Regions from separate parts of the Homo sapiens genome. Here region 2 is linked to region 1. Evidence: fine-mapped QTL for protein levels in blood plasma. A gene starts in region 1. The other region holds a variant in brackets. All regions are shown on one strand. Distances are from middle to middle. Region 1 holds the start of LPA (lipoprotein(a)). Region 2 overlaps LPA (lipoprotein(a)).

The links. A credible set is the group of variants that fine-mapping cannot tell apart. PIP is the chance, under the fine-mapping model, that this variant and not a neighbour inherited with it causes the effect. The UK Biobank Pharma Proteomics Project read protein levels with antibody pairs (Olink). The fine-mapping took linkage between variants from a reference panel, not from the people measured, so its PIPs are less certain.
Region 2: its variant is the best candidate, but not a certain one, in a credible set for the plasma level of the LPA protein (UK Biobank, PIP 0.78).

What each region holds. Positions count from the first base shown.
Region 1 is chr6:160,655,072-160,670,910 of GRCh38, forward strand. LPA (lipoprotein(a)) reads right to left here and starts at 9,204. Exons shown (of 39, transcript NM_005577.4): 1 at 9,095-9,204. The coding sequence starts at 9,143.
Region 2 is chr6:160,593,063-160,608,901 of GRCh38, forward strand. LPA (lipoprotein(a)) reads right to left here. Exons shown (of 39, transcript NM_005577.4): 17 at 13,415-13,596; 18 at 11,984-12,143; 19 at 7,855-8,036; 20 at 6,438-6,597; 21 at 2,292-2,473; 22 at 896-1,055. Among named protein-coding and RNA genes, the nearest start is that of LPA, 63 kb to the right of the region's middle. RefSeq lists an enhancer at 11,898-13,097. The variant G/C (reference allele first, on the strand shown) is at 7,554.

The sequences.
Region 1 (15,839 bases):
CTTCAATTTGATGATGAAATGCCGCTGTGCTGACCCACTTCATGGCTAGATGGGTCAGAAAGCAACCAGTTCATGATAGGCAGGTTCAGGTAGCATGGTGACTTTATGACCCACAGTCAAACGTTCAGTTACCACCAAAGCCCAATAACAGACCAATAGCTGTCTCTCAAAAGGAGAGTAGTTATCTGCAGAAGTGGCAGGGCCTTGCTCCAAAATCCTAGAGGTCTCCACTGTGATTCACCTATGGGGGCCTGCCAAAGGCTCCAAACAGCATCCCTATCTGCCACTGACACCTCAAGCACCATTGGATCTGCGGGGTCATGTGGCCCAAATGGCAGAGCAGCTTTCACAGCAGCCTGGACCTGTTTCAGAGCCTTCTTTTGTTCTAGACTGCACTTAAATCTGGCAGCCTTTCAGGTCACTCGATAAATGGGCCAGAGTAACACACCCAAACGAGGAATGTGTTGCCTCCAAAATCCAAATAGGCCCACCAGGCATTGTGCCTCTTTCTTGGTTGTAAGAGGGGCCAAACGCAGCAAGTTATGCTTCACCTTAGAAGGAATATCTCCATAGGTCTCATGCCACTGGAACCCTAGAAATTTTACCGAGGTAGAAAGTCCCTAAATTTTAGCTGGATTTATTTCCCATCCTCTGGCATACAAATGTCTCACCAATAAGTTCAGTGTGTTTGCTACTTCTTGCTCACTGTATCCAATCATCATAATGTCATGAATGTAATGGACCAGTGTTATATCTCGTGGAAGTGAAAAGCGAGCAAGGTCTCTCCAAATAAGATTATGACACAAAGCTGGAGAGTTGATACACCCCTGAGGTAGGGTGGTAAAGGTATAATGCTGGCCTTGTCAGCTGAAGGCAAATTGCTTCTGGTGGGTCTTATGGACAGGAATGGAGAAAAAGCCACTTGCCAAGCCAATGGCTGCATACCAGGCACCAGGAGATGTGTTAATTTGCTCAAGCAACAAAACCACAACTGGTAGAGCAGCTGCAATTGGAGTCACCACTTGGTTAAGCTTAAAATAATCCACCATCATTTTCCAAGATCCATCTGTCCTCTGCACAGGTCAAATGGGAGAGTTGAACAGGGATGTGGTGGGAATCACCACCCCTGCGTCTTTCAAGTCCTTGATGGTGACACTAATCACTTCAGTCCCTCCAGGGATGGGATATTGTTTTTGATTTTTTTATTTTTCTAGGTAGAGACAGCTCTAATGGCTTCTGTTTGGCCTTTCCCACCATAATAGCCCTCATCCTACCAGTCAGGGAGCCAATGTGGCATTTCTGCCAGCTAATAAGTATGTCTATACAAATTATGCATTTTGGCACTGGGAAAATGACCAGAGGATAAGTCCAGGGACCCACTGGAACCACTGTAAGTCAGAAATGAGCTAAAACTCCATTAATTACCTAACCTCCATAAGCCCCTACTTTAACTGGGGAACCACAATAACGTTTTGGGTACCCTGGAATCAACGTCAGCTCAGAGCCAGTGTCCAGTACTTTCTGAAATGTCTCATTACTTCCCTTTCTCCAGTACACACAGTTACCCTGGTAAAAGGCCAGAGGTCTCCTTAGGGAAGGATGGGAGAAAGAGTAACAGCATAAGTTGTCAGTAGCCTAGTGGTGTCCTTCCTCAAGGGGATCCAGCCTCCCCTTCATTCAGTGGGTTCTGGAACTGTAACAGGTTCGAGTCTGGAAATTGATTGAGGGCCCATGATTCTCTGTTTTTATAATTCAGATTAGTCTTTAGTCCATTCTACCTGGCAGTTTTTTGTTTATATAAATCAAGTAGGAATACAGTAGGTTTCCCATCAATTTCACTTCTAGGAACACCATGATTAATTAGCCAATGCCAGAGCTCTACATGAGTCAGACTATTCTGATGGCTGCTTTGCCTCTGCTGTCTATTATGGTAGTTATGCCCACCTTGCCTTTGATGGTTCAGTGCCAACACTTGGCCCCTGCCACCTCAGGATCCAATTATTCCCATTGTATTTAAATTTTGTAGTTGAGTGACTGTGGTTCCTACTGTTAGATCTGACATACAGAGAAGAGCAATTACGGGCTCTTCAAAAATACAGGTGCTGCTCTCACAAATCTATTTCACAAAGCTTCGGCCAAGGGTGTATCTTCTGGACCCTCCCAGCTGGGATGAGTAGGTCTAAAGTGACTAATCCACTCCACCATCCTAATCTCCCTAAGCCTTTGGATCACTTCCTCTACATTAAACCAAGGCATTTCCAGCTCACTAACATTGGACCATCTTTTAATCCATATTTCAGCTAACCAAGCAAATAAACTATTATAACTTTTTTTTTTTTTTTTTTGGAAATGGAGTCTTGCTCTGTTACCAGGCTGGAATGCAGTGGGGCGATCTTGGCTCACTGCAATCTCTGCCTCACAGGTTCAAGCAGTTCTCTTGCCTCAGCCTCCCAAGTAGATGAGATTACAGTTACGCATCACCATGCCCAGCTAATTTTTGTATTTTTAGCAGAGATGGGGTTTCACCATTTTAGCCAGAATTGTCTCAATCTCCTGATCTCGTGATCTGCCCGCCCCCGCCTCCCAAGGTGCTGGGATTACAGGCGTGAGCCACTGCTCCCGGCCCTATCAGAACCTTTTCTAAGTCCCCGAGCTGCAACATTAAATGCAGAATCCCTACTTAGTAGGGCCAAACCAATAAATTCAGCTTGATCCAACTCTATGTCCCTTCCACCATTATCCCTTACCCTTAATATCCATTCCCATGCCTGTTCTCCAGATTTCTGCCAATATAAATTAGAAAGCTTAAGCAGTTCTTTTAGAGTATAATGCACCTCCTCATGGGTCACACTCTGAACCTCACCTCTGGGGCCCGCAAGGAATTTAGCCTAGTTATAGGTCTAGAAGCATTCAGGGGCATTAGGGGTGCCTCTTGAGGAGAATCAACATTATCTTGCCTGGCAGCTGCCTCAGGGAAGGCCATCACTGTTGCCTCAAGCAGTGCAGGGTTTACATCCTCAGACAAAGGTGGAAAGGCTAATGGCAGCACGGGTCAGGGAGGGGATGTTACCACTACTGGGGATGGGGAAACTGTTTCTTCTGGCAAAAAAGTTTCATCAGAGTTCACAAACTCAGTGTCCTCAGCTTCATCAGGGTTCTCCCACACATCCCCACTCCAAGTTCCAGGGTCCCATTTTTTTCCAGTCAATGCCCTCACTTTAACAGTAAACACCTGGCAAGGCTGTGCATGCACCTCTTGTTGCAGATCAGCTACTCGCATGATAACAGCTTGTCTCTGTTTTTTCACAATTTCAACTCTTTCTCTACAGGAGTTAAAACTCTCATTCAGGGCAATCTTAGCAGATTTGTGGCTCAGTATCTGCTTCTGAAGGTGGGAGACAGATCCCCTGAGATCATCATTTTCTTTCATCTCTTTCTCCAGAGAACTTAGGAGCAATCAACCAACTTCATTATGTTCCTTGGTTCTCCACATATAGTCAAAGGTATTATGTATAGAGTCACTAAACTCCTTGCCTCTCATAAGTGATGAATCAGTAGTGTCAAATGCATTTATTTTGCATAACTCTCTAAACAATTCAGGCCAAGTACTATCAGTGTTCTCCATACTATTAGAAGTAGAGTCCTTAGCATTTTTTGGTCTAATCATATTAATCAGCCAACACCAGAAGTCCCAAAACCAATGAAAGAATTCCATCCTTAATATTCTGTTCCTCAAGAACCACTTCTGGTATGAAAATCTGTATTAGTCGGGGTTCTCTAGAGGGACAGAACTAATAGGAGATTATATATATATATATATGAGAGAGAGAGAGAGAGAGTATATGTATATATGTGTATATATAGTGAGTATACCTATATCTATCTATAGATATAGATATACTCACACAAAGGGGAGCTTATTAAGTGGTATTAACTCACAAGATTACAAGGTCCCATAATAGGCCACCTGCAATCTGAGGAGCAAGGAAGACAGTCCAAGTCCCACAGCTGAAGAACTTGGAGTCCGATGTTCAAGAGCAGGAAGGATCCAGCACAGGAGAAAGATGTAGGCTGGGAGGCTAAGCCAGTCTAGCCTTTTTACATTTTTCTGCCAGCTTTATATTCTGGCTCTACAGCTTGGGGGCAGCAGGGGCAGGGGCCTCAGGGTGCTTGCAGGGATGACACACTGGCCTCTTTTCCATAGGGTGGCTGGGGCACACTGGGGTGTGAGTAAAGCACTCAGGATCTTTTTTCCTTCCCTAGTCCAAGTACAGCAAGGGCAGTATGACTGCAGTGTTAGTGGCAGAAGGACTTTCAGTCACCTCTGGGAGCTTCACCCCACAAAAACACAGAGTGCAGCCAGTGGAAATGTTCAACTGAGTTCGAGGTGCCTGCACTGTGGGCCCAAGCCAGGAGCCTTGCCTGGTGAAGAGTAGCAGGTGAAAGCTCACAAGAAAGAGAAACTGGAATTCTTTCCCTGCTGTGTGCTGGAGGTGTCAGGGAAGTGGCCAGGTCCCTTCTTTCTCAAGCCCAAGGGCATTAACGGTGGTACTGCTGCAGCTGAAATGGCAGAGGGGCTGTGGGTTGTCTCTTGGATTTCCTCCCCAGAGAAGCACAGAGCCAACACTGACTAAAATGTTCAGGCAGGGCCAGGGTGGCTGTGCTCTGCCCAGTGAGGAATAGTAGGGGCAGGGACCAGTGCAGAAAACAGTGTGGCCACTTTTCCATAAGGCAGCTACACTGTGCTGGAGGTCCGTGAGAGTCCTGAAGCTCCTCGCTCCCTCCTGAGCCCATACTTTAATCTCAAGAGTTTGAGATAAACAGTGGTAAGGAAGAAAGTACAACGGGTACGGCTAATGAAACCCAGGAAGATAAGTCAATGCGTAGAAGTAATTCCAACCTAAAGAAATACTTTTTAAAAATCATATTTATAGAGGTTTGCAGTGATACTAAAGACAATATTGCAAATCATTATTAAGAATACAAGAAGTACAATGTTTCTTGTTTCTTTAACACCTGTGATACAGGTGTTTGATATGAATTCTACGTAATGGCTGCATTGCTTCTTGCCACCACCCAAAGAAGGTTGTATAGCACTCAGATGTATACTAACTGCAACCGTGTATCTCTTAGGAATTTCTCCTTTGCCCTCTTCCCTCCCTATCAGCATGTATCTAGCAGCATTCTGAAAAGTTAACTGCACAGTGAGCGACTGCTGGGCATCTTAAGGGGCATTCTTTTCTACCTAGGTATTCCCCCTCCTCCACTCATGTCTAGCATGCAGGACTTGGGTAATCTCTGGGGTTTCAGATTCTCCAGACCTCCATTCTCTCAGGGGCTTCCACCTCCTGCTCATATCTAGCTATCTGCCTAGTCTAACCATAAAATCTTAAATAAGAATAAATCATGTTTGCTCTTGATTGCCATGTCATGATAAAAAAAATAAGACACCATCAGTGGCAACTGTGTTGCCAAGATTGATGTTGATCTGCTAATCCCTGTGTAGAAATGAACCTTGGAGGCCATTGTTTGATTTCTTACAATATGTGCATTGGTTGTAACACTGTCACTTTGACAGTTGATAAGCATCTTCTGAATGGTCCCTCCTTTAGTTACAAAAATGTTGGTGCATGGATGATGTTGGGAATAAATAAAAAGTGAACTAAATTATGTTCTCATCTTGGGCAAAAATTAAGCAAAAAAAAAATGGAGGATATGAAGCTCCTCCACAAAGAAGGCCATTTTTGTACTAGGCTTACTACAGTGACACACCACTATTAGTTGGGGAGAATTCAGTTTTTCCAAGGTGTTGATAGGCATCCAGATTTCAGAGGAAATTGTAAAAAAGCAGAACCTGGGACCAATACTGCCCACGATTTTTCTTTGAGATCAAATCTGAGGCAACAAATCTGTTCAAAAGCTGCTTTCTGCCTGGTTGTGGCAAAGGGTGGCCAAGTGGGGCTCAGCTGTGTTCCCATTGCAAGGCTACTGAGCATCCCCTGTCCTGAGGCTCCTTAGGACACCTGGCTGAGCTTCAGCAGCCCTCTTCCAAGCCTGGAGATGCCAGCTCCATCTCTGGCACAAAATGTAGTGATTTTCACAGGGTGAGAGGCCAAAAGAGGCTAATAAAATGAAGATAGCCAAGCTTCCATGGAATTAAGCAACAGGACAACCTTGACCACTTTGAGGGGTGTGGTGGGGGCCACATGCAGATGGAGTGGGTTAAAGAGTGACTAGAAGAGCAGTGGGGGTGGCAGCAGGAGAGAAGCCTGGCTCTGAAAGCAGCGAGACTTCTAGGGAATACAGGGTCAGGGGAGGTTCTGAAAGATGACACACTGCAGAGAACATGTGTTTGTATGCCGATGACAAGTATCCAGTAGAAAGGCAGATGAACAGATTCTCATTCTCAGAAAGGCCTGTCCTGACCTCCTGAGAGTACACAGACCATGAGGGCAGGGCAAGGAGGAGGATGCACGCTCACTGTTTCATGCAAAGTCCTTGGCCACAGTCCACCTGCTCCCCACCTCTGTGACTTTGTCCTTCCTCAATTTAATATGCTCTATGCTGGAAAACTGGATTATTGAACAGGCATTGGCTGATGCATTCTGAACCTAATCCACTAAAAAGCACTTGATAGATATATCAAAATATCATTGAGAAATAGATATTTTAGGCCCATATCCATGTCTTCACCCCGCACTGTTTCTCATTTGAACTCTCTTTTCCAGGAAGAGTTGTGCTTGGGTAAATTCTATAGCTCACAGTGTGACTTCAAAACACACAATAAATTAATAAGGTGCTTCCTACAGTGAGTTCAGTTAAACATTTTGAAGAGTGTTTTTGAAATGTAGCAGAGCAGGCTACAATTGATATTCAAAAAGAGGAAACTTCCATTTATTTCCCCCTTTAACTAAGTTACCTGTAACTGTGTCATTTTATTATGCTTCATAGAGCATCACTGCTGAGATCCCCTCCCCAGCTCATGTTGCTAGGAAATATCCCAAAACAGAATCAATTTTTCTTTTTTTAACCTGATGATTTTTCCACAATCCTTTTGTTTCTCTGATTCACCTCCAGGGCTCATATGGCAATGGGGATTTAATAGGGTTTATTTGTTGGTGAAGAAACATTAAACAAATCTTTTAATAGGAAAAATACTTTTATATTATAGGCAAAATGTAGATGTATATTGCTACTGAAGTAAATGTATTTTATTAATGGTGTGAGAATTTCTTCCTCACTGTGGTGTGTGAATGTGTATGCATATTTGCATGTGTAAAAGACTTAGCAATTTGTGAATAGAAGATGTTTCTCCGCTTCTCACTGAGCATGGCTGTAAAAGAAACTTTTTCCTCTCCCCGGGCATTCCAGCACACATTGGAAAGATAACACGTCCACAGAAAGCCTGGCTTTCCAAAAGAGCTTATCAGAGAATGTGCCCCCCAGGTCGATTAAAACATATGTTAATCCTGTGGCAGAGAAGTTTGTTCTAGCCTTTGGGTGTAGCCTGCTGAATAAGTTCACAGTGATCTACATCCTAGTTTCCATGGGCTGAAATAGAATATTCATATCCCCTGCACTCCCTACACACACAGACATAGACACCAATTTCCCCAAAAAACTCTTTGCTTAATCTTCTCCTGCTCTGTATTTTCTTTGATATTTTCTTGAATGGCTTCCACTAAATTCAAATGTGTTTGACTTTAAAGTCAACTTGTAAAATTTTATCTGGTAATTTATAGATTAAATTGCAAGCATCTACCTCCCTTTCATCAGACTCTCCCTGCAGGGCAAGTTCATCTAACTATGTATGTGCTTCAAGATGGAACTCCTGAGTTCACAGGTGATTTATAAACCAAAGCATGCCCACTACAAAACTCTCACCCTCCAGAGATTTGCCTCAAGGGACAACACCCTGCTCACAAAGGCACCAGCAGGCAACTGCTCAACTACCTGGTGGATAAGGTGCCCAAGCTAGCATGGACCCCTGAATCCTTGCTCGCCTCCTCTGTTGCCTTTTAAAAGTGCCACTTTCTGCTCCTAAAGTGAAGTAGTACGGCAGGACTGCTGCATTTCTTCCCCTAAGCTAGCTTTGGAAGCAAATCACTTTCTTTATACCAGACTTCTCTCTTCTTAATTGGATTCTGCAAGTGGCAAACAATTAACCTGCTCTTCAGTTACATTGGAATGTGTTTAGATTTATTTTTTCAAATGTTGGAACAAAGATGAAAAAGTGAGAAGAGCCCTAGATTTTTTCTTGGAAATCTGGCTTAAATCCAGGTTTCTTTATTTCCTTGATTTGGGAATTTGGTCACGAGACAAATAACATGATTTTCCTAAGTCTAGATTTCTTTGTTTATAAAATGGGGATGACTATGCTACCCTACCTATACCATGAGCTAAATAAGCTAGTATTTGTAAAGGACACACACTTACATTCACAATCACACACGGTGTGTATGTGTGTATGTATGTATAAAAATGTGGGGACCTAACCCACTCAACAAATACCCTGAGTATTTGTTGAATCATTATATGCGTATATCATCTGGCAAATGGATGTGTATAATTTCTCCAGGGATAAGAAGCAAATGTATACCGATGGAAAGCCTTACTCAGGCCATAACAAAGAGAGAAATGCTGAGTCCCACTCCATGAACAGGTCAAGGAACCAAACATATTCAAAGAGTTATTTCATTGTTTCAACTTGCTAGTGAGGGGAGCATGGCACCTGAACAGAGATGATATAAATTAATGAAACTGAGAACCAAGCGAAGAGCTTAGCCATCCTTTGCATAGTTAGCTACAATGGCTATTTATTTTTCAGCCAGACTGGCCATCATGTAGGCACACTCTTTTAGATTAGAAAAATCAACCATTATTTTTTCTGCCCATTCATTCCAGCACCGTGACAGTCTTCACGGGGAAATTAAACTTATTTTTTTAAGAATTTTTCAATCATATACAAGATTTTGAACTGGGAATTTCATGAATCAAAAATTAAATGAATTGCACATAAAGCCATGGCATATGTATTTTTACTACATTGTGGGAGAAAAAATAATTCTTATAATTTAAAAAAACTATGTCTTACCTGATTTCAGAAATAAAAGAAGTAGAAGAACCACTTCCTTATGTTCCATTTTGGGACTGGCCAGCAGTGCCCAGAAAGTGTGTCCCAATCCCAGGACATTGTTGACTTACATGAGAGTAAACGCACCCACAAACCAGATAGTCAAATTAAGTTAATGATTCTCTCAGAGACCCATGCCACTGGCTCAGCAGGGTTCAAACATTACCTTGAATATAGAGTCTTATAAAATATTTGAGAGTGCAATGTCAATAGATGCTGGGAAGTGGTGAAAGCCATTTCCCCCCTCAGCTGCTCCACATTGCCTTTATGTCTCCTTACTCCTTCCCTCACCCCTAGACCTTCATCTTTCCTGATTAGTCTTGTTTCCTCCCCTCTTCTTTCATTCTCTTTCTTTTGGATAAAATAAAATCATAAAAGTAGCTCATATTTGCTGGTAACTTCCATGACCAGACCCTCTGCCAAGTGCTGCACATCCATAGCCTCCCTCAAGCTTTCCAACAGGCAGTGCTGTACGAGGAGGGGGCTGAGGCCTTCCCGAGGTTGTGTCGCTACCCAGGGGTGCAGCTGATAGACACAACCCTTTCAGGTCTTAGTTTACGAGCAAGCTAGGTATAAATGTTAACATCTCCACATCCTATACCAAACTGTGCCGAAATGACAACATAAGTGAAAATCTTTTATTATCTTCAAAATTTATTTATTCCTAGTGAACTCACATGTTTTCTGTAATTATAAATTATGTTATAAGATATCAATCCTTCCAGGAGGGGGTGGTGGCTCATGCCTATAATCCCAGCATTTTGGGAGGCCACGGCAGATGGATCACCTGAGGCCAGGAGTTTGAGACAAGCCTGGGCAACATGCCAAAACCCTGTCTCTACAAAAAATACAAAAATTAGCTGGGTGTGGAGGCACATGCCAGTCATCCCAGCTACTAAGTAGGCTGAGGCACTAGAATTGCTTGAACACAGGAGATGGAGGTTGCAGTGAGCCAAGAATGTGCCACTGCACTCCAGCCTGGGTGACAGAGCAAGAATGTCTCAGGAAAGAAAAAAAAATAATAAATACCAAATAAAATTAATAAAATATCAATCCTTCCTATTCTAGTAGTTGTGGCTTAAATAAATAAATAAATATTTTTAAAAATAAAACATAGGGTCGAGTGCGGTGGCTCAACTCTGTAATCCCAGCACTTTGGGAGGCCAAGACAGGTGGATCACAAGGTCAGGAGTTTGAGACCAGCCAGGCCAATGTGGTGAAACCCCATCTCTACTAAAAATACAAAAATTAGCCAGGCGTGGTGGTGGGCACCTGTAATCCCAGCTACTAGGGAGGCTGGAGTATTCACTTGAACCCAGGAGGTGGAAGTTGCAGTGAGCCAAAATCACGTCAGTGCACTTCAACCGGGGTGAGAGTCTCAATAAAATAAAATAAAATAAAATAAAATAAAATAAAATAAAATAAAAGCATAGTATCAATCTTTCCGCAAATGAATTCATGGTGCAATCTTACATTTTCGTTCTCATGAAGTAAAGCAAGAGTGGTAGAATTAAGTGGAAAGAGTCTATCTCTAGTGTAGTCACGTCAGTGGTTGTGTCAAGATGGTTAGGAGGCTCCTCCCGTTTAAAACAGTATCCAAGCCCCAGTTGTAAATCAATTGGGGAGACACGCCAACTCTGATCATCAGCAATATCTGAGCTCCAGTCTCAGATATTGTGTGCAGTTAGTCTCTGTCCTGTACCCTCTACCTCCTTCCCTACCAGAAAAATCACCACTTTAGTCCCTGGCCACCGGGACACCCCAGGAGGGTGAGTGGTCTGAGGTAGTTATGGCACTTATGGCTCCCTTGCTGCTGATCTGGAACTCAAGCCCCAAGAAGTCCCCTTGGATGATCTGAATATACATTTGGGACAGATCTAGGGAGTTTCTGAGCAACACTTAGACTGGGGTCTTCCATTGATTAAATCCTACTTGAATTCGCTACTTTGGGACTCAAGTCTAAGGGACTGAGACTGAGACAGGAGAGCACAAGACTAACTTTGGTCTCTTGATCTTTTCTTACCTTGCAACTGTCAATGCCTCCAGCCAAATGCCCAGCACAGAGCTCAGTGGATTTGACTCTTCCATTCAGAAACTCATAGCGATTGCACACTTCATTCTCAATCACAGGGAGCTGGGCTTCCTTGAGAAAGCCAGCCCCAAAGGTACCTGTGTTTAAAAAGATGAAAGAAATGGTAACTACGTCCACAACATGTTCACAAGGAAACTCCAGAAGAACAGAGCAGTGGTGATGGACCTCCTGTCTGTCCGTGAGGCTGTAGAACACAAGGCAGCTCCCAATGCTGCCAGACTCTCTGAACCCTGGAGAGTGTAAACGTCATATAAGAGTCTATGTTCCAAAAACCTGGATTTAACAATCTGAGCTTTGTCATGGTGCTTTGCGGTTGGTTGTTGTTTCTTTACCTTTTTCTTTGCTTTTAAAACCATAAAGAATAATGTTTAAATGTAGAGTCTGAGAAATGCAATTGCTATTGTTTTTATATTTTCAGACTTTTTGTATGCTTCTTTCACTAATTACATCATATCACAAAATTTCACACCCTGATTTTTTCACTCAACATTACATAATGAGTTTTGTATAGTGCTATGATCTTCATAACTAATATTTTAAAGGAGAGCTACTGATTAATGAGCATGAGGTTTCCTTTGGGGATGAGGAAAATATTCTGGAAATATGATGATGGTTGCACACCACTGTGAATGTACTAAATGCCACTTGGTGGTACCCTGCAAAAATGGTTAAAATAGTAACTCTTACGCTGTGTACATTTTATTGCAATAAAAAAGAATAGTCATCATTTACTAAGCATTATCCTTTCCAGGCACAAGCTTATAATGTGGTGTATCTCACTTCATCCTCACAACAGTCCTATGAAACAGGCAGTTCCATCACTCCTGCTCTACAGTTAAGGAAACTGAGGTGTAAGGAGGTTGTCTAGTTCAACCTGAGCCTGGGTCTGCGGAGTCACTGCCCAAATGCTTCCTCCCCGTGCGCGTTGGCCCCCCTCTTGCTTCCAACCCTCCACATCTTTGTTCATAAAGTTCATTCTTATTCCTTAATATTTTCTGAGCCTAAGTTCCCATAAATTATATAGACATATTTCTGTCTCCCAATAACACTGCCAATTTATTTTCTAGAAGGTTATGACAGTGTAAAATGTCACTAGAAAACAATCACTTCACCACACTTGTATGAGTGTTCAATTTTTAAATATTAGCTAATCTAACAGGTTGAAATTGTCCTGATTCATTTTCTAATTTATACTTCTTTGACAATTTGGGAGAGTGAAGATTCTCCTGGTTGTGTTTATTCTTTTGTGAAAAACTGCTTTATTTTCTTTGCCAAATTCAAATAGAACGGTTGCAAAATTGCCAGAGGAAATGCTGTTTTTCCAGATGGACACACCCAGGGATGTTTCAGTGTTCTCACAAATAATCCAGTTTTCTAATTTTGCAAGCCCAGCTTTCATTAGAATTTTGCAAAAATCCTTGCTTTGCGAGCATGGCACAGGCAAGAGATGAGGCACTCTCTCTTTCTTCCCCCAGAGCCTTTGACTGCACTTAGATCATTGACTTTGGTTCAGAAACCTGACTGCATCTGGAGTTGACATGAGCAGCATGGAAGATGTTTGTCCCAGCACCTCACTCCAGAGGCCAGCTCAGCTCAATCTGGGCAGAGCTGCATGATGGAAGTTTCTGACTACCAAGCATCGGGCAGAGGGTGCATCACCTGGACTACATAGTTGTGTGAGGGAGCACCGTTCTCTAGAATCTGCTATTTGAGCAAGGCAAACATCCTGATAATGGTGAAAACCTACCGCAAGTTGCCAGGAAAGTTGATGTGGTCTGCGAGTAGGTGCTGCCATCCAGTGGCCGACATAGAGATGTCATCTCTGAGGGCAGGTAGGCCACAGGTGACAAGAGGATTGAAGCCCTCCCTGATGGGGCCTTGGGGAGAGGGCAGCAGGGTAAGTCCAGCGGCAGGATCAGTCCATTGATTGTGGATGACGACTGACCTGGAAAATCCCCTTGGCCTCAACACCTCCAAACTCTGCATTTGATCCAAGTCAGGGAACACCTGGAAACATGAAGGGGAGAGCAGGAAAACTTTGACCTCCCTCTCAGAGGCTGAGAACGCCAATTGACCTGATGTCATTATTGACATGTAGAAAATTGATGAACAGGCCTGAGTTATGTTTTGTGGCACCTCATGGTCTAGTTAGTGTTCTGAGAATCATTTTCTCAGTGGACCTGCAGGTGAGACCAGGCGAGGCAGAAGCCTAGTGGGGGATGGTGGTTAGAAATGTGTGGATGGTTGTGGGGCAGAAGAAACAGCAAGTAGGCTCTGGGCCAGCTACAAACTGGTTATATGATGTCTACTGATGATGATAGTGATGGTGGTGGTGGTGGTGATGGTGGTGGTGGTAATAATTGTGATGGTGGTGGAATGATGATGATGGTGGTGGTGGGTAGTAATGATGGTGTTGGTGATGGTGGTAGTGGTCGTGGTGATGGTGATAGTGATAGTGATGGTGGTGGTAATGATAATGCTAATGGTGGTGGTAATGATAATGATTATCATGATGATAGCGGTGGTGATGGTGATGGTGATGATAATGGTGATGGTGGTAGAATGATGATGATGGTGATGGTGGTGGTGGTGGTAGTAATGATGATGGTGGTGGTGATGATGTTGAGGGTGATGATAATAGTGACAGTGGTGGTGGTAATGATAATGGTGATGGTGGAATGATGGTGATGGTGGTGGAATGATGATGGTGGTGCTGAGTAGTAATGATGGTGATGGTGGTGGTGGCTGTGGTGATGATGGTGGTGGTAGTGGTAGTAACGATGATGGTGGTGGTGATGATAGTGATGATGGTGATGATGTTGAGGGTGATGATAATAGTGATAGCGGTGGTGGTAATGATAATGGTGATGGTGGCGGTGGTGATGATGTTGATGAAGATGATAATGGGAGTGGTGGTGGCAATGTGGATGGTGATGATGATGTTGACGATGATGATGCTCATCACAATCACCTTATATGTTAGTACAGGTAAGAAAGCCAAGGCTAAAAGAGATTAAATAACTGCCCAATGTCACATGGAAGATGGTAGAGCCAGAATTCACACCCAGATCCTTATGATTTTAGCTTGGTGCTTTCATCAGTTGAGGTATTGGAGAGGATCTGTTTGCTTTCTGGCTGCCCAGCAGTCTATCACCCTACATCCCATAATCCTGTTGAGGGATCCACCCTTTGCCCTTCTGGGTATGAGTGGGGTCCTGCCTCCACCTCTAGCATGTAATAGCTGATGCAGGTTGGAGCCAATCAGTGATGGGTTCAGGGACAGGCCTGTGACCCAAGTTCAACCTCTCAGACCTGGCCAACTATTGTTCACTTAATGGGGACAGTGGCCTTCCTCAGTCTTTCCTGGCAAAGCAAGAGCTGCCACAGCATCTGCCACCACAAGAATCTCACCTTTGTGCCCAAGGATGATGCCTACTGCATGGCTGGACAGGGCCTGGGCCCTGGGGCCATCATGTGAGCCTAAAGACTTTTCAGCTCAACAAGAATTCCCCTTTTTTGCTTAATCCATCTTAAGTTGGATTTTCTGTCACTTGCAAGAAAGAGTCATGTTAGATACAACTCTATTCTGTATATTAGTAGGAGCTGCCATGATGGAGTGCGTAGCACGTGCTCGACACTTGATGCACATTCTTATTGTTTCTCCCCCGACAACCCTGCAGCCCCCATTTCATATAAGAAAACAATCAATGAGAGTTCATGACTTTTCTAAGTCCCGACAGCCAGTAAGTGGGAACCAGGGTTCCAATTCAGGTCTCCCTGTGCCATCCTGCACCTTCTCTGAGCCTCAGGTTCCTCACTTGTAAAATAGGAACAATAATATCTAAGTCTTAGAGGTTTGCAGCATTTAAATTTTTATAAGTGCAAAACACTGGGAGCAGCCTGGCACACCCAAAGGTGTTCCTCTTTTGCCAAGTTTCCTTTTAGTTGGCCTCAGTGTTCCCAGACTCAGGAGTGCAGAAAGGGGGATCAAGAAACCAAGGAGGATGACATTTTAAAAATAGTAGAAAAAGCACAGAAAAAGGAAAGCAAACTTTGCAATTATCTAGACCAGTGGTTTTTAACCTTTTTGTTAAACAAAAAACAAACAAACAAAAACCTTTCTTCAAATGACAGCTTATGCAAAAGGCTGATGTGGAAAACACCACTTGAAAATGCTGGTTTTACAAATGAGGGGTTGGAGTCAAGTCATACAAAGAGTTAACGTGCCTAGTCCAGGTCTGTCTGGCTAGTGGCAGAGTCAGAACGCTTTTCTAGGGCTCCAGACTCATAATGTCCTCACCAGCACCTCTGAGAAAGTCAGCAGAGTCAGAACGCTTTTCTAGGTTCCAGACTCATAATGTCCTCACCAGCACCTCTGAGAAAGTCAGGCAGAGATCCCAAAACAGTCTTAGTGTTCCAGTGGTCAAGGGGGTAAGTCTGATAGATATAATTATTGTCAGGGCATACTGAAAAATGAAGAAGGAATCCCTAAGATGTAGTCCAGGTGCTGATACCACATCCTGCACAGATGTTCCCTCTCTTTCTCTCACCCATCAACCAATACCAAATACTATCCTAGATTTGGGGCCATGGGGCCTGTCTGCCTCTCCCTTA
Region 2 (15,839 bases), 62 kb before region 1:
GGAGCTCCTTTCCTCCACAAATCCCCTCTCATTCTTAGCCAGCCTAGAATACGTCAGATGCCTGAGGCATCACAAACTCCAGTCTCTCTCCTCAGTTAAGCAAGACTGCTGTGGTCAGCTGGGCTCCATCTGCTTGCCCTTCAAGGGTCTCAAGGAAGGATGCCAGGGACATGATAAGGTTGATCTCCTTTGATTCCCTTTCTGAATTTTCTCAGGCCTGTCATGTCTGTTGTCCAACCTATGAAAACACTTTTCCTATGTATTTGATAGTCCTTCATGGCAGAAACGCTGACGTGGTCTGAACTGGGTTTCTGTCCATCTTCCTGCATGTGTAACTCTTCAGAATCTTTATACTTCCTGACTCTCAGCTGCCTTCCTACTTTTGCCCCTCATGTGCTGGCAACACATAGCTCTTCAGATACCTTGTTCTCAGAACCCAGGTACAGGTTAGAGGAGAAAGTGATTGGAAGATCTGGATGTCAACATAGATATCCTTTATTTGTTGCCCAAGATGAACATGGCTAATACAACCTTCACTTCAGGACTTGGAGATTAGAATGACAGAAATCCCTGGTTGAACTATTGCATTGGTCTTTAGTGGGCATTGTGGAATGGTGCTATTTCTAAGCACGTGGCCATGTGTCCTGAGCTTTCTATTCATGAGAACTCACCACCTTCAAATATCCTCCTGCTTCTGTCAACTATGAGAAAAGAGAGCTGGCCTGACATTTCTCTCCTTTCAGACACTGTGCCTGAAGAAAGAAGCCTGAGACATTCTACCCAACATTCCAGATCTGAGATAAATTTGTCATAAGAAGTTAGTTGGAAGCATGGCCCTTCCAAGAGAAATGTAAGGGGGCTGCTGTCTGTCTTTGAAGAAAACTCAAGGTTGTACCCATTTGGATAATATTCTGTTGTCCTCTGATGCCAGTGTGGTGTCATAGAGGACCAAGACTGACATGTCCTTCCTGTGACAGTGGTAGAGAATGAGCCTCGATAACTCTGTCCATCACCATGGTAGCAATCCTGGACCCCGGGGCTTTGCTCCGTTGGTGCTGAAATTCAAAGAGGAGAAATCAAGCTGAGTAATTTCTAGAACACAGAAGCATCAGAAGAAATCTGTGACTGAAACAGGATCATTGTCTCTGAGAAAGACTACCATGCTCTGTTCTGTACTAGCAGGCAGATGGACATACCAATAATAAAACCCAAAGATTCATAGCATTCTAGAACTTTAACGAGTTCTTAGAAAGATTTCCTTTAAAACACAGGCACCAAAGGAAAGATCAGAGTGCCTATCAGTCAAAATTGCACTCATGTGCATGCTCTTTAATATAGACATCTTCTGGGTGTTCCTGAGAATAAGGCAGGAAACTAGACTGCTATGCATCAGGCTGTGCAGGTTGTAGGTGGTGATTGACTGTCAGTGGGGACAGACATGAAACCGTCACACATTTCCCTAGACTGCTGATCCTCCAAAGCCAAAGCCTTCAGCTTCTTGAAGATGGGGCAGGAAGCGGTCCTGCATCTAGGACTCGTAGGCAAAGACAAATTGTCTCTCAGAGAGGGCTACTGGCCAAAATTTTATTCCCTTGGAGGGATGGCTGGTATCTTTGGCCCAGGATTCTGCATTGCAACAAAGTAGATATCCACTACTCTTCTTCTCAGAGACCAACACAGATATATGTTCCATGAGAAGGAGGGGCAAGAACACTGAGAGATCCCTCCCATCAAAGCCTAGTTGTGCAGGACTGGCTTAAGATGGAGATAGGCCAGAACGATGGAGCATTTGTTGGCTATGTACTGCTACCTGGACCCAGAAGTATATGGAACTAAGAAAAGTCATATTAGGTTTCTCAAGGATGACAGACTCAAAAACCGCATTCCTCCGAAACCGCAAAGCCAAAGATGCAATGAACACTGACTACTTGAAGAAATACCATGAAAGGCTTATCATGAGCTTGGTAAATCTTCACAAATTTGGCAAAATGTTAGAATATTCTTCTGGCTAAGACACTAAAATGATCCTTTGAATAACCAGGGGAGTGGTAAGTCCAGTGCCCTAGAGGGTCTGCACCCTTCCTATAGATACCACCCTTTCACAGGGTACCAAACATCACAGCTCTGGTTCTCCCAGAGAAGGCGCTGAGTGTTCCTTCCCAGTGGCTGACCCTGAGTCCACATTCTACTTGGAATTGTGTGAGCATGGAAGGCTTCTATATCACTAAGATTTTGCAACTCTTTTCATCCCAACGTCCTAGGGTGTGGTTGTCTGGCCATAGACTTCCTACCTTCTTCAGAAGAAGCCTCTGTGCTTGGATCTGGGACCACCGTGAGAGTTGCAAGGACACTTGATTCTGTCACCAGGCATTGTGTCAGGTTGCAGTACTCCCACCTGACACTGGGATCCATGGTGTAACACCAAGGGCGAATCTCAGCATCTGGATTCCTGCAGTAGTTCCTGGTCAGGCCACTGCAAATTTCAAAACAACACAGGTCACCAGAGATGGGAGAAGATTCAAGGGCACTTAGCGCCCTCTACATTTTGCTGTAACAAAGTGTAAAAAGAGACTTTGAAATATTTTCACTAAAGGTCCCATAATATGCACAAATGGTCCTCAACTTCTAAACAACTGCGAACATCTCAAAGACAAATTATCATTCATATTGTAACACATCCAAAGTCATCTGTGCTCCATAAGAAAATTGAGAGTAAACATCAATGTTTACTCTGTACATTGTGCAAGTTGCACTTGTACTTGTACAACTTCAATTGTACTTGTACAATTATACTCTGTACATTGTACAATGTTGTACAATGTACAAGAGGATCAGAATACCCTCCTTCCACCTTCTGTGAAATATGTTCCTCCAGATTAACTGAGATTGATTTTGAAGTGTGTCTTGTAGATTGTTTTATGCACATACAAATATTTCTCTGTCAGCCTCTCTGTATGTCTCTCTACAGGACTACACTAACTATTCAGCATCTGGTTTGCTGATTTGTTGTCTTCCTCAGGAATTGGCCCACATGATTAACATTCCTGAATTTATTCACATACAATTGTTCTCAAAATCTTCTTTTCAGCTTTCAGAACTGGAAGATGCTATAGTAATGGCACCTCTCCTCTGTTACTCCAGATGGTGATGGTTGTGCACCCTCATTGGTCTGTCATTTGTTTAGCCAGACTGTGTTCAATCATATGGATCTTTTCAAAGAATCAACTTTCTGTTTCAAGAGTTTACTCCCTTGTTGGTCTCTTTTCTTGTTCACTGAATGTCACTGGTTTGGACTACTTCCTTCCATCTGCTTTCCTTGGCTCTTATTTGCTTTTTTTTTTTTTCTTGTGTAGATATTTAAGCTGTGGTCTTAGATCAACAACTGTCAAAGTCTTTGTTCATAGGGGATTCCAAAGAGCTTTTCTTTTTCAAAACACAAGATGAATATTTATAGTATAAGAAACCAACACTGAGAATTTTTTTAACACACAAAGTCAACAATTGCCCATTTTCTTAGCCATCAGAGACATGATGCCATTACATATTATGTAACTGCTGGAAAACTCCCCTCTTCTCTTGTTGGAAAATGAAAGTAAAAAGGGCCAATAGCATCTTACTTTTCACGTAGCAAAGTCCTTTAACCTCATGGACTGTCTCTGAAGGTACTCAAAGGTCCTCAGGTTTCTCTAGACTACACTTTGAGAATTGCAGTTTGAAATCTTGATTATTACATGCTTCTGTTTTTCCCTAAGAGCATCTAAAATTATGTAAAAGCCTAAAGACATTCACTGCATCTCCTAAGTTTGGATAAATTGTGTTATATTCTTACTCAGTTCAAAACTTTTCTAAATTCCTTAGTGATGTTTTCTTTGTCCCAAAGAGTATTTTGAAATGCACCGTATGACTCCCAAATATTTGAGAAGCTGGCAAACTTCTCATTATTCATATCTCACTTTATTCTGGGAGAATAAAGTGACACACTCTGTATGACTTTAATTCTTTTAAATCTATGGAGACTTGCTGGAAGGTCATGTGTAGAGTACACCTCAGTGAATGCTCCATGCACACTTTAATGTGTACTCGGTAGTTCGGTATAATGTTAAATAGGTCGACGTTTTTATTGAGAACAAAGATACTATGTCTAATTTTCTGCATATTTGTTCTAGCCTGTTGTGTTTGGGAAAGATTTATAACCATAGTGAGAGAATCAAGGAAATCTCTAACTCAGAGTGTGGGCTTATCTATTTCTCTCTTCAGTTGTGTCAGTTTTTCAATCATACATCACAAAAGCTCTTATTAGGGTAAAACACATTGAGCATTGCTACATATTCCTCAATGAACAATTTTTACTTCTCTATGTTTCAATGCTCGTGTGGCTCTAGGATTCACACCTGTGTGGGTGTGGGTGTGTGCACGTGTGCCATTGTGTGTATATATGTGCAGCTATTTCTGTAGATTCTATTGAATTATTTTTCAGTTAATTTTTTCCCTGGAAACAACTAACCTGATTGGGAGACCATCCAGTGAATTTTTCATTTAAGATATACCTTTTAATAGTCCTTTAATTTGATTTGACTCTTTTATCCTTTTACTTTCCCTTGATATGATATCTGTTACGTTCCATGTTTATGTTTTCTTAAATCCAGCAATGCAGTTATGATACTAATATGTCAAATTCTCATGCCATTTAAATCATTTCTATCATTCCTGGTTCTATTTTTATTGACTGATTATTTTCCTGGTTATGGTTCACACTAAATGCTTTTTTATGTGTAGTAAAGTTATAAATTTAGGACTCACACTGTGGATATTGCATAGCTCAGCAACTTAACTTTGTTGTTCACCTGTAAAGAGTGTTGAGTTTTCTTCTAGAAGGCAGTTAATTGACTAGGACACCATTTTAATGCTTGGAGATTTGCTTTTCAGCTTTGCTAGGTTTTTTCTGGAGCTGCCTTTATTCTAGGAATATACAAAGTCTACTCATAAAGTCTGACTTTTCTGAGGTCTCTACTGAATGCCCAAGATTTTCAATGAGGTCTCTTCTCTCTAGCTGGTCAAAACTCCAATATTCCAGAGCACTATGTGAGCTCTGTCACCTTTATTAAGCTCACTGTTCCCTTGTAGTTGTTGTTCCTCAATATATGGTGTTTTTTTGCCATATTTTCTTGTGGAAAATCTTCTATGCAAGTGCTGCTTTATGTTTAGACTAACACTTGAGGAGACTTCTATGCCTGGAGCTCCTATCCTCCACAAGTCCATTCTTACTCTTAGCATGGCTAGAAAATCCTAACTACCTGAGTAATCCCAAAGTCCAATCACTCTCCTCTGTTCAGCAACATGGCTACAGTCAGCTTGGGCTCCATCTCCTTGCTCTTCAGTGCAGGAAGGGTCTCCTTGAAGAAAGCCAAGGCATTGATGGGTTGATCTCATTTTCTCCCTCTTGCAATACTCTTGGTCCTCTAGCATCTGTTGTTCAACATGTGGAAACCGTTTTGCCGTGTCTTTGGTAGTCACTTATGGCCGAAAGACTGGCCATAGAATGGCCAGATCATGGCTTCTGTCCATCTACCCGCCCCTTTTACTTTTCAGCATCGCCCCTTTGCTGACTCTCATCTGCTTTCCTGCCTTTGTTCTTCTCCTCTGGGCAGACCGTATCTCTTCAGACCACTGGTGCTCAGGACCAAGTGTGTTTGTACCCATTGAAAAAGAAGTAGATAGAAAAAGATTTGCCTCTCCATAGATGTGCAAGTATCAATTCCCTGTGACCCAAGATGCAAAAGGCCAACACAACATTCACTTCAGGGACTAGAGCTTAGAATGATAGAATTCCAAGGTGAAAAGGTTGTATTAACCCTCAGCCGATGTTGTAGAAGGATACTCTAACTCTTTGGTCATTTGTCATCCCGGCTGTTTTATTAATAAGATCTTCTCAACTCCATATATCCTTCTGCTTCCATAAAACTAGGAGGAAGGAGAGCCAGCTTAAAAAATGTCTTCTCAGCCAGGCACGGTGGCTCACGCCTGTAATCCCAGCACTTTGGGAGGCTGAGGCAGGCGGATCACGAGGTCAGGAGACCAAGACCATCCTGGCTAGAACAGTGAAACCCTGTCTCTACTAAAAATACAAAAAATTAGCCGGGTGTGGTGGTGGGTGCCTGTAGTCCCAGCTGCTAGAGAGGCTGAAGCAGGAGAATGGTGTGAACCCGGGAGGCGGAGCTTGCAGTGAGCCGAGATCATGCCACTGCACTCCAGCCTGGGCAACAAAGCAAGACTCTGTCTCAAAAAAACAAAGTCTTCTCTAAGAACTTTTGCTCACAGGAAATGTTCCTCTGCATCTGAGCCAAGTTGAGTCCTGAGCAGTCACCTTGAAGCATGACTCTTCTAACAGAAACTTCCATTGGCCCTTCCTTCGCTTATGGTAAAGAACAAAGACGTACGCATTTGGGTAGTTTTCTGGGGTCCGACTATGCTGGTGTGGTGTCATAGATGACCAAGCTTGGCAAGTTCTTCCTGTGACAGTGGTGGAGTATGTGCCTCGGTAACTCTGTCCATAATGGTAGTAGCAGTCCTGTACCCCGGGGGTTTCCTCAGTCAGTGCTGAAATTAAAACAGAAGACATCAAGCTTATTATTTCCTAGAACAGAAAAATACAGGAAGCCATTTATGACATAAACCAAAAAAGAGTCACTGAGATTTACAACCATTCTCTATTCTTTATTAATAGGCAAATGGACATGAGAAAACACACAAACAAACACGAAAGTAAGAGATGCCTACCATTCTAGAACTGTAGTAAGTTCTTAGAAATATTTCATGTAAAACTTAGTGGAAAAGAAATATCAGATTGCTTCTCATCGGAAACTCCACTAACATGGAAGCTCATTTCTAGGAATCTCTACAGAGTGTTCATGACGACATGGAACAGCATAGAAGAAAGGGTGATGCATTTGGCAAAGCTGAAAAGCAAGTCTCCAAGCATTAAAATGGTTTTTTGGGGAGGAGGCAAGGACATATAAAAACCTTGCATGTGTCCCTAGATGATTGCTCAAAAAAGAAAGCATTAAACTCCTGGTGATGGGGCAGACAACAGTCCTGCAGCTAAAACTGTAGGCAACAACACTTCACTTCTCAGGGATGAGTGGAGGCCAAAAGCTTATCACCTACAATAAGATAGGGAATCCTCTCGTGCCCAGCATAATGCATTGCAATAAAGCAAAAGTCTACTACTCTTTTTCTCCAGACCCCCCGCAGGTACAAGTTCCATCAGAAAGAGGCAAAAGCACACGAAAAAATCACTCCCTTCAAAGCTAAGAACTGCACAACCTGCCTCGGACTGAAAAAGACCTGAGAGATAGAGCTTCGGGAGCTCATGTACTACTCCACAGACCCAGGGAGATATGGAATTAATGCAACCCAGTTAGGTTTCTCAAGGATAACAGGATCTAGAGCCACATTTCTCGGAATCTGCAATGCTGAAGATTGCACTGAATGCTGTCTACTTGAAGAAATCCCTGGAAAAGTTTACTGGCTTGGAAAGACACACACATCTGACA[G/C]CATATTACAATAAGAATTTTGTCTAGGACAATGAGATAGCCCCTTTTACAATGAGGGGAGTGGTGAAGTCGAGCACCCAGAATGGTTTCCGCCCATCCTAAAGACACAGCTCGCACAGGTTGCACCAAAAATCACACCTCTGGCTCCCCCAGAGAGTGCGCTAAGGCTTCCTCCCACATGGCAGACCCAGAACCAACACACGAGAACCAGTGTAGCACTGAAGGGTTGTGCGTCAGTGGGGGTATCCATGGCTTTTCATCCCAGCATCCAAGCAGGTAAATGTCTGGCACAACTTCTTACCTTGTTCAAAAAAAGCCTCTAGGCTTGGAGCCAGAATAACATTCGGAGGGACGAAGGCAGTCCATTCTGCATCTGAGCATCGTGTCAGGTTGCAGTACTCCCACCTGACACTGGGATCTGTTGTATAACACCAAGGGGCTGCCACAGGATCTGGATTTCGGCAGTAGTTCTTGATCAAGCCACTGGAAATTCCAAAAGAATACACATCACAAAAAATGGGTACATATGCAGGAACACTGTATATTTTGCTACAACAAGGTCATTACTGGTGCCTTTGAAATATTCCCAAAAGAGATACCATACAATTGCCACAATGACAAATGGCTCTCAATCTCTAATCCTCTCTGCACATTTCTCATACTTAATATATTATCACTTTTTTTAAAGAAAAAAAATCTAATGCAGCACACACTTCCTAGAAACACTGAGATTATACATACATGTGGCCAAAAAGGGATCAGAATATCCTCCTTCTGCCTTCTGCCCAATCCATCTCTCTGGAATAACTGGTATGGATTTTGACGTGTGTATTGTGGAATTGGTTATGCACATACAAAAGTATCTCTATCTGTCTAGCTCTCCGTATCTCTCTGTGTAGGACTTCATATAGTAATGTGCGAGTTGGAACTAACACATAGTTCTCCAGAGAAAAAAATGGCATCCAGCATGATATCCTTCCCAGGCCAGCAGTCTCATTCAATGTACTCAAAATGTAGCCAAAAGGCTCTATGTTCAGCATGTAAAACCATTGCACAAAAAGTATTCCTGTCTGTCGATACCGTATCAGGTGGGTCAAGTGGGTTTCTTTCTGCAAGACTTCTCAAAGCTGCCCTGGAAACCTAGCTTTCAGGCAGGATGCAGTATCTCTAGGATGGGTTCCTGGTCAGGACTTCCTCTCCTGCTCTCAGTCCATCCTCTGCTGGCCACAGCAATTCCGGGACTGAGGGAATGGGGGATGAGTTGAAAGAACAGTGGCACTCATGGCATAAAGGGAGACAGCTGGGCAGACTATGAGGTCTGAAGAGGTCGGGCAGCTATGGAGGACCTCAGGCTGGGGAAATCTCAGAGCATTCACTCCTCCTTATGCCTCCTAAGAACATTGCTCCAACCTCTCAGAATCCTCCCATTCGTGACCTGTGGCTGCCTGGGAAAACGGGAAATGTATTATGGGCCATGGGGATCCAACACTGTCTCTCTAGAGACTCTACACATGTGACCTAGTCTCAAGCCCAGACCCTCCATTCCAGGAAGCTGGTTCAATGAGCAACTGGATGTGCTCAGAGCTTGAGTACTTGAAAGACTTCTTTTTCTTCCTTGGCTTCCCTCTTTTGGATACATGGAAAATTCTTATTATATAATATCCCTCAGAATTCAAAATTTTATGATTGCTTTAGGATTTACAATATCCCTTTGGACCCACAAATTCAACCTTTCATTAATATTACATACCATCGTGGATAAGGTAAGAAACTTACAATGGTACACTTCCAATTATTCCCCACATGATTTAGTCTATATGTTCAAATTTTTACCTCTACATATGCTAAAGTTAAATATATTGCTATCATTTTGCTTCAAGTAGTCAACTCTCATTTAAAAAGATATAGAAATTTGATCAAGAAAATATTTTGCATTTACATCTACATTTGCCATTTGCTGGGTTCTTCATTACGTGGGCTGCAGAAAGTTCTCCTCTTGAACTATTCTTCTTCTAGCTAATTTTCTTTGGGCAACATCTCTTGTTACACAAGCCTGCTGATTCCAAATTATTAGTTTTTGGTTTATTTATTTGGGGCAGTGCACAATATGCATTTATCCAACATGGATGATCTTCAAGGCATTTTATTGCTGGATGTAGCATTCTCATTTGATCTCTTTTTTTTCTAGTTTATCATTTTAATGATATCCCCTGTTAACTGGGTTCCAGTGTTTCTGATGAGAATGCATTAGCAATTTGTATCACTGTTCTTCTAGCAAGACACAGCTCTTTTTCCTCCAGTTTCTCATGAGATGTTTCTTGTTATTATATCTTTGCCTTCTGACTGTTGAACGGTGATGTACAAAAGTGAATCATACAGTTTTTTTTTTTTTTTTTTTGGAAATTCCCTGTCTGATTCATTCAGCTTCTTGAATCTGTGGTTTTTAATATTCTTCTTATTTGAAAAGTTTTTAGCTATCCTTGCTTCCAGTATTTGTTCCTGTAGCAATCTCTCCTTCCTCTCCTTCTGTGACTTCCTACCCACATGCAGGAAATCTTTTTATATTTTCCCGCCTGTCTGTGAGGATCAGTGGATTTCATTTTTTAGTATTTGTGGAGGTGTGTGTGTGTGTGTGTGTGTGTGTGCGTGCATGTTTCTAAGCCTGTGCATGTGTGAGTATGTGTGTATATGTGTGTGTCATTTGTGTATGTGTAGCTGGTTCTGTAGGTGGTATAAAATTGTTTTTCAGTTAGTTTTTACTTCTGAAACATCTCACTCCATTGGGAATACATCCAGTAATTTTTTCATTTAAGACATACCTTCTTATACTAGTTCTTTAATTTAATTTGGCTCTTCTATACTGTTACTGTCTCTTGATATGGTATCTGCTTCATTCCGTATTCATGTTTTCTTAAAACCTAAAACTCAGTTGACATATTGATATGTCAAATTTTTTGCCATTCTAATCATTTCTGTCATTTCTAGGTCTATTTGTATTGACTGATTTTTCACCTGGTCATGGTTCATACTAAAAGCTTCTCTATGTGTAGTCAAGTTTTAAATTTAGAACTCACACTGTGAACACCACATAGCTGAGCCACTTGACTTTGTTGTTTACCTCTAAAGAGGGTTTTCCTCTCCCAGGCAGTTAATTGACTTGGAAATGATTTTAATGCTTGGAGACTTGCTTTTCAGTTTTGCCAGGGTTTGTCTAGAGCTGCCTTTTTTTCTAGAAATTTACTAATTCTACTCCTAAAGTATGACTTTTCTGGAGTCTCTACTGTATTCCCAAGAGGTTCAGTGAGGTCTCTCCTCCAGCTGGTCAGAACTCCAGTATCCCAGAATGCTATGAGGGCTCTGTCCTCTTTATTGAGCTCACTGTTCAATCGCAGTTGCTATTCCTCAGGATATATTCTTTTCTCTACTTTCTTGTGGAACCTTTTTCTGGGCACATGCAACGTCATGTTTAGCCAAAGATTCGAGGAGACTACTATGCGTGCCCCTGGAGCTCCTTTCATCCACAAATCCATTCTCATTCTCAGCAGGCCTATAAAATCCTAGCTACCACAGTAGTCCCAAATTCCAATCTCTCTCCTGCATTCAGGAAGATGGCTACAGTCCATCTGGGCTCCATCACCTTGCTCTTCAGTGCAAGAAGGGCCTCCAGGAAGAAAGCCAAGGTATCTATGGAGTTGATCTCATTGTTCCCCCTGTCACTATTCTTTTGGTCCACTACTGTCTGTTGTCCAACATGTAGAAACCATTTTTCCATGTCTTTGGTGTCACTTATGGCCTAAAGCCTGGCCATGGGCTGGTCAGACCTGGGCTTCTGTCCATCTATCCACCCTTTTACTTTACAGGATCTCTCTCTTTGCTGACTCTCATCTGCCTTCCTGCCATTTTTATTCTCTAACAACCAGTATCCCTTCAGACCACTGGTGGTCAGAACCGACTGTGTTTCTACATATTGGAATAGACGTAGATATAGAAAGAGATAGATTTGCCTCTCCATAGATATACATATATACTTTCCTTGTAAGCCAAAACAGAAAACCCCAACAGAACCTTCACTTCAGGAATTGGAGTTTAGTTTAATAGAATTCCAAGGAGAAAAGGCTGCATTGAACCTTAGTGGGTGTTGTGGAAGGGTACTCTAAGAGTTTCATCATTTGTCATCTTGACTTGTTTCTTAATGTGATATCCTTGCCTCCAGATACCTTTCTGCTCCATTAAACTAGGAGGAAGGAGAGCCAGATTAACATTTGTCTTCTCTTAGACTCTTTGCTCAAAGACAATGTTCCTGAGACATTTTGCTATGCACTGTTCATCTGAGACAACTTGAGTCCTGAACACTCAGCTTGAAGCATGACTCTACTAACAGAAATTTCCACTGACCCTTCCTTCACTTATGGTAAAGAAAATAGACATACGCATTTGGGTAGTATGCTGGGGTCCGACTATGCGAGTGTGGTGTCATAGATGACCAAGCTTGGCAGGTTCTTCCTGTGACAGTAATGAAGTATGTGCCTTGATAACTCTGTCCATTTCCGTGGTAGCACTCCTGCACCCCAGGCCTTTGCTCAGTTGGTGCTGAAATGAAAAGAAAAGAAATCAAACTGAGTGTTTCCAAGAAGAGACAAACATGTGAAGCCACTTATGGCACAAACCAGAAAAAAGTCTCTGAGAATTATGACCTCAGGAGAATATGACAAGTAACATTCTTGTTTCTTTATTTGTAGGCAGATGGACTTGAGAAAAGCAACAACCAACCAACAAACAAAAACACCAAAGAAACAAATTCCTAACACTTTAGAACTGTAGTAAGTTCTTAGAAATATTTCACATAAAAGCTTAGAAAAAAAGGACAAATGAGAGGGCTTCTCAATGGAAACTGTGCTCACGTGCAAGCACATTTATGGGAATTTCTACTGAATGTTCATGAGGACTATGGGGCAGCAAACAGCAAAGCACGATGCATTTGGGGGTACAGGCCATACATGGTGATTGGGTGTTAGGGGCAGAGAAACGGACAGACATGAAAACAATGAACGTTTCATAACAAAAGGCAAGGTCTTCAGCTTCTGGGCCATGGGAGAGACAACAGTCCTTCGTCTAGGACTGCAGACAAAGACACTTCAGTTATCAGGGATGGGTGGAGGCGAACAGCTTACTCCCCTGCAGGAGAGATGAAATCCTCTCATGACCCACATCCTGAGTTGCAATAATACAGAAGTCTCCGACTCTTTCTATCCAGACCGCTCACAGGTACAACTGCCACCAGAACACGGGGCAGTCACTCACTTAAAAACCTAGGGCTGCAGAGCCCACCTATGACTGAGGAAGTCCTGAAACATAGATCATTGGGAGTTCATGTACTGCTCCATAGAACCAGGGTGATTTGGAATTAATGCAACCCTGTTAGCCCTGTTTCTCAAGGGTGACAGGCTCCAGAGCCACATTTCTCTGAATCTGCAATGCTGAAGATTGCACTGAATGCTGGCTAATTGAAGAAGTCCCAGGAAAAGCTTACTGGCTTGGAAAGAGTCACACATCTGACAGCATGTTACAATAAAAATTTTGGCTAAGACACTGAGATAGCCCATTTTTCAACGAGGTGAGTTGTGAAGTCGATCACCCTGGAGGGTTTGTGCCAATTCTAAAGACACAGCCCACCCAACGTTGTACCAGAAATCAATCCGCTGGCTCCCCCAGAGAGTGCACGGAGGCTTCCTCCTACATGACAGAACTCAGTCAACACTCGAGCATCCGTTTACCATTGGAGGCTGCTGCATCAGTGGGAATTTCCATGGCTTTTCATCCCAGCATCGAAACGTGTAGGTTTCTGGCCACAGGCTCCTTACCTTGTTCAGAAGGAGCCTCTAGGCTTGGAATCGGGGTAATAGTTGGAGGCGCGACGGCAGTCCCTTCTGCGTCTGAGCATTGTGTCAGGTTGCAGTACTCCCACCTGACACTGGGATCCCTCGTATAACAATAAGGGGCTGCCACAGGATCTGGATTCCTGCAGTAGTTCATGATCAAGCCACTGGAAATTCCAAAACGATACACGTCACAAGAGGTGGGACAATATGCAGGGGCACCCCACACCCTCTCCTTTGTGCTGCAACAAGGTCATTACCAGTGCCTTTCTAATATTCCCATAAAAGTACCATATGATTGCCACAAGCACAAATGGCTCTCAATCACTAATCCTGTCTGCACATTTCTCATACTTAAAAGATTATTATTATAAAAAAAAATCTAAAGTAGCAAACGCTTCTTAGAAACACTGAGATAATACATACACGTGGGCAAAAAACGATCAGAGTATTCTCCTTCTGCCTTCTGCCCAATCCATCTCTCTGGAATAACTGGTATGGATTTTGATGTGTGTATTGTGGAATCGTTTATTCACATACAAAAGTATCTGTATTTATCTAGTTCTCCGTATCTCTCTCGGTAGGACTTCATATTCTAATGTGCAAGTTGCAACTAACAGGTAGTTCTTCAGAAAAAACATGGGATCCAGGAGGATAACCTTTCCAGGTCAACCTTCACTCTCTATGTACTCAAAACCTCGCGAAAAGGCTCTACTTTTCCCATGGAAAAGCACTGTGCAAATTGTATTACTTTCTGTCATTCCCATATCATGTGGGTCAAATAGGTTTGTTTCTGCAAGACTTCTCAAAGCTGCCCTGGAAAACTTGCTCCCAGGCAGAATGCAGCATCTCTAGAATGGGTTCCTGGGCAGGACCTTCTCTCCTGCTCTCAGTCTACCCTCTGCTGGCCGCAGCTACTCTGCACTGAGGGAAAGGGGGATGAGTTGAAAGAACAGTGGGACCCATGGCATAAAGGAAGATGGCAGGGTAGACTAAGAGATCTGAAGAGGTCGGACAGCTACGGAGGAACACTGCATTAGGGGGCAAAGCAGGTAGGAGTTTGGGCTGCGGGGATCTTGAAGCATTTGCTCTTCCTTATGCCTCCCAAGAACGTTGCTCCAACCTCTCTCTATCCTCACATTCATGACCTGTGGCTGCCTGAGAAAATGGGAAATGTATTACGGGCCATGGGGATGAAACACTGTCTCTCTAGAGACTCTATACATGTGGCCTAGTGTCAATCCCAGACCCTCCATTCCAGGAAGCTGGTTCAATGAGCTACAGGATGTACTAAGAGCCCAAACTCGTGACAAATTTCTTTCTTCCTTGGCTTCTCTCTTTTGAATACATGGAATATTCTTATTATACAATATACCTCAGAGTTCAAAACTTTGTGATTGCTCTAGGATTTGCAATATCTCCTTGAACCCACACAGTAACATTTTATTAATATTACATACCATTGTGCATGAGGTAAGAAACTTACAATGGTACACTTCTAATTATTCCCTACATGATTTACGCTACTTGTTCAAATTCTTACCTCTACATATGCTAAAATTAAATATATTGCTATCATTTTGTTTCCAGTAGTCAACGCTCATTTAAAAATATATAGAAATTTGGTCAAGAAAATATTTTGCATTTACATCTACATTTGCCAATTGCTGGGTTCTTCATTACATGGGCTGCAGAAAGTTCCCTTCTTGTACTATTCTTCTTCTACCTAATTCCTTTGGGTCACCTCTCTTGTTACATCAGCCTGCTGATTCCAAATTCTTACAGTTTCCGGTTTCTTTGTTTGGGGCAGTGCACAACATACATTTATGCAGCATGGATGATCTTCAAGGCATTTTATTGCTGGATTTAGCATTCTTGGTTGATCTCTTCTTGTTCCTGTTTACCACATTAATAACATTCCCGGTATCTGGCTTCCAGTGTTTTTGACGAGAATGCATTAGCAATTTGTATCACTGTTCTTCTAGCAAGAAACAGCTTGTTTTTCCCCAGTTTCTCATAAGAAGTTTCTTGTTATTATATCTTTGTCTTCTTACCGTGAAAATGTGAAGTACAAAAGTGCATCATACCAGATTTTTTCTTTTTTTCGAAACGCCTATTTGATGCATTGAATTTCGTGTTTTTGCGATTTTGTTAATATTCTTGATCAATGAAAAGTTTTCGGCCATCCTTGATTCCGGTATTTGTTTCTGTTTCCAATCTCCCGTTCTCTTTTCTGTGACTTGCTTCCCATATGCAGGAAATCTTTTCCTATTTTGCAACATGTCTGTGAGGTTCGGTTGGTTTTCTATTTCACTATTTCTTGAGGGTTGTGTGTGTGTGTGTGTGTGTGTGAACTTGTGAGTTTTTGCGTGGGTGTGTATGGGTGTGTTGTATGTGTATATATGTGTGT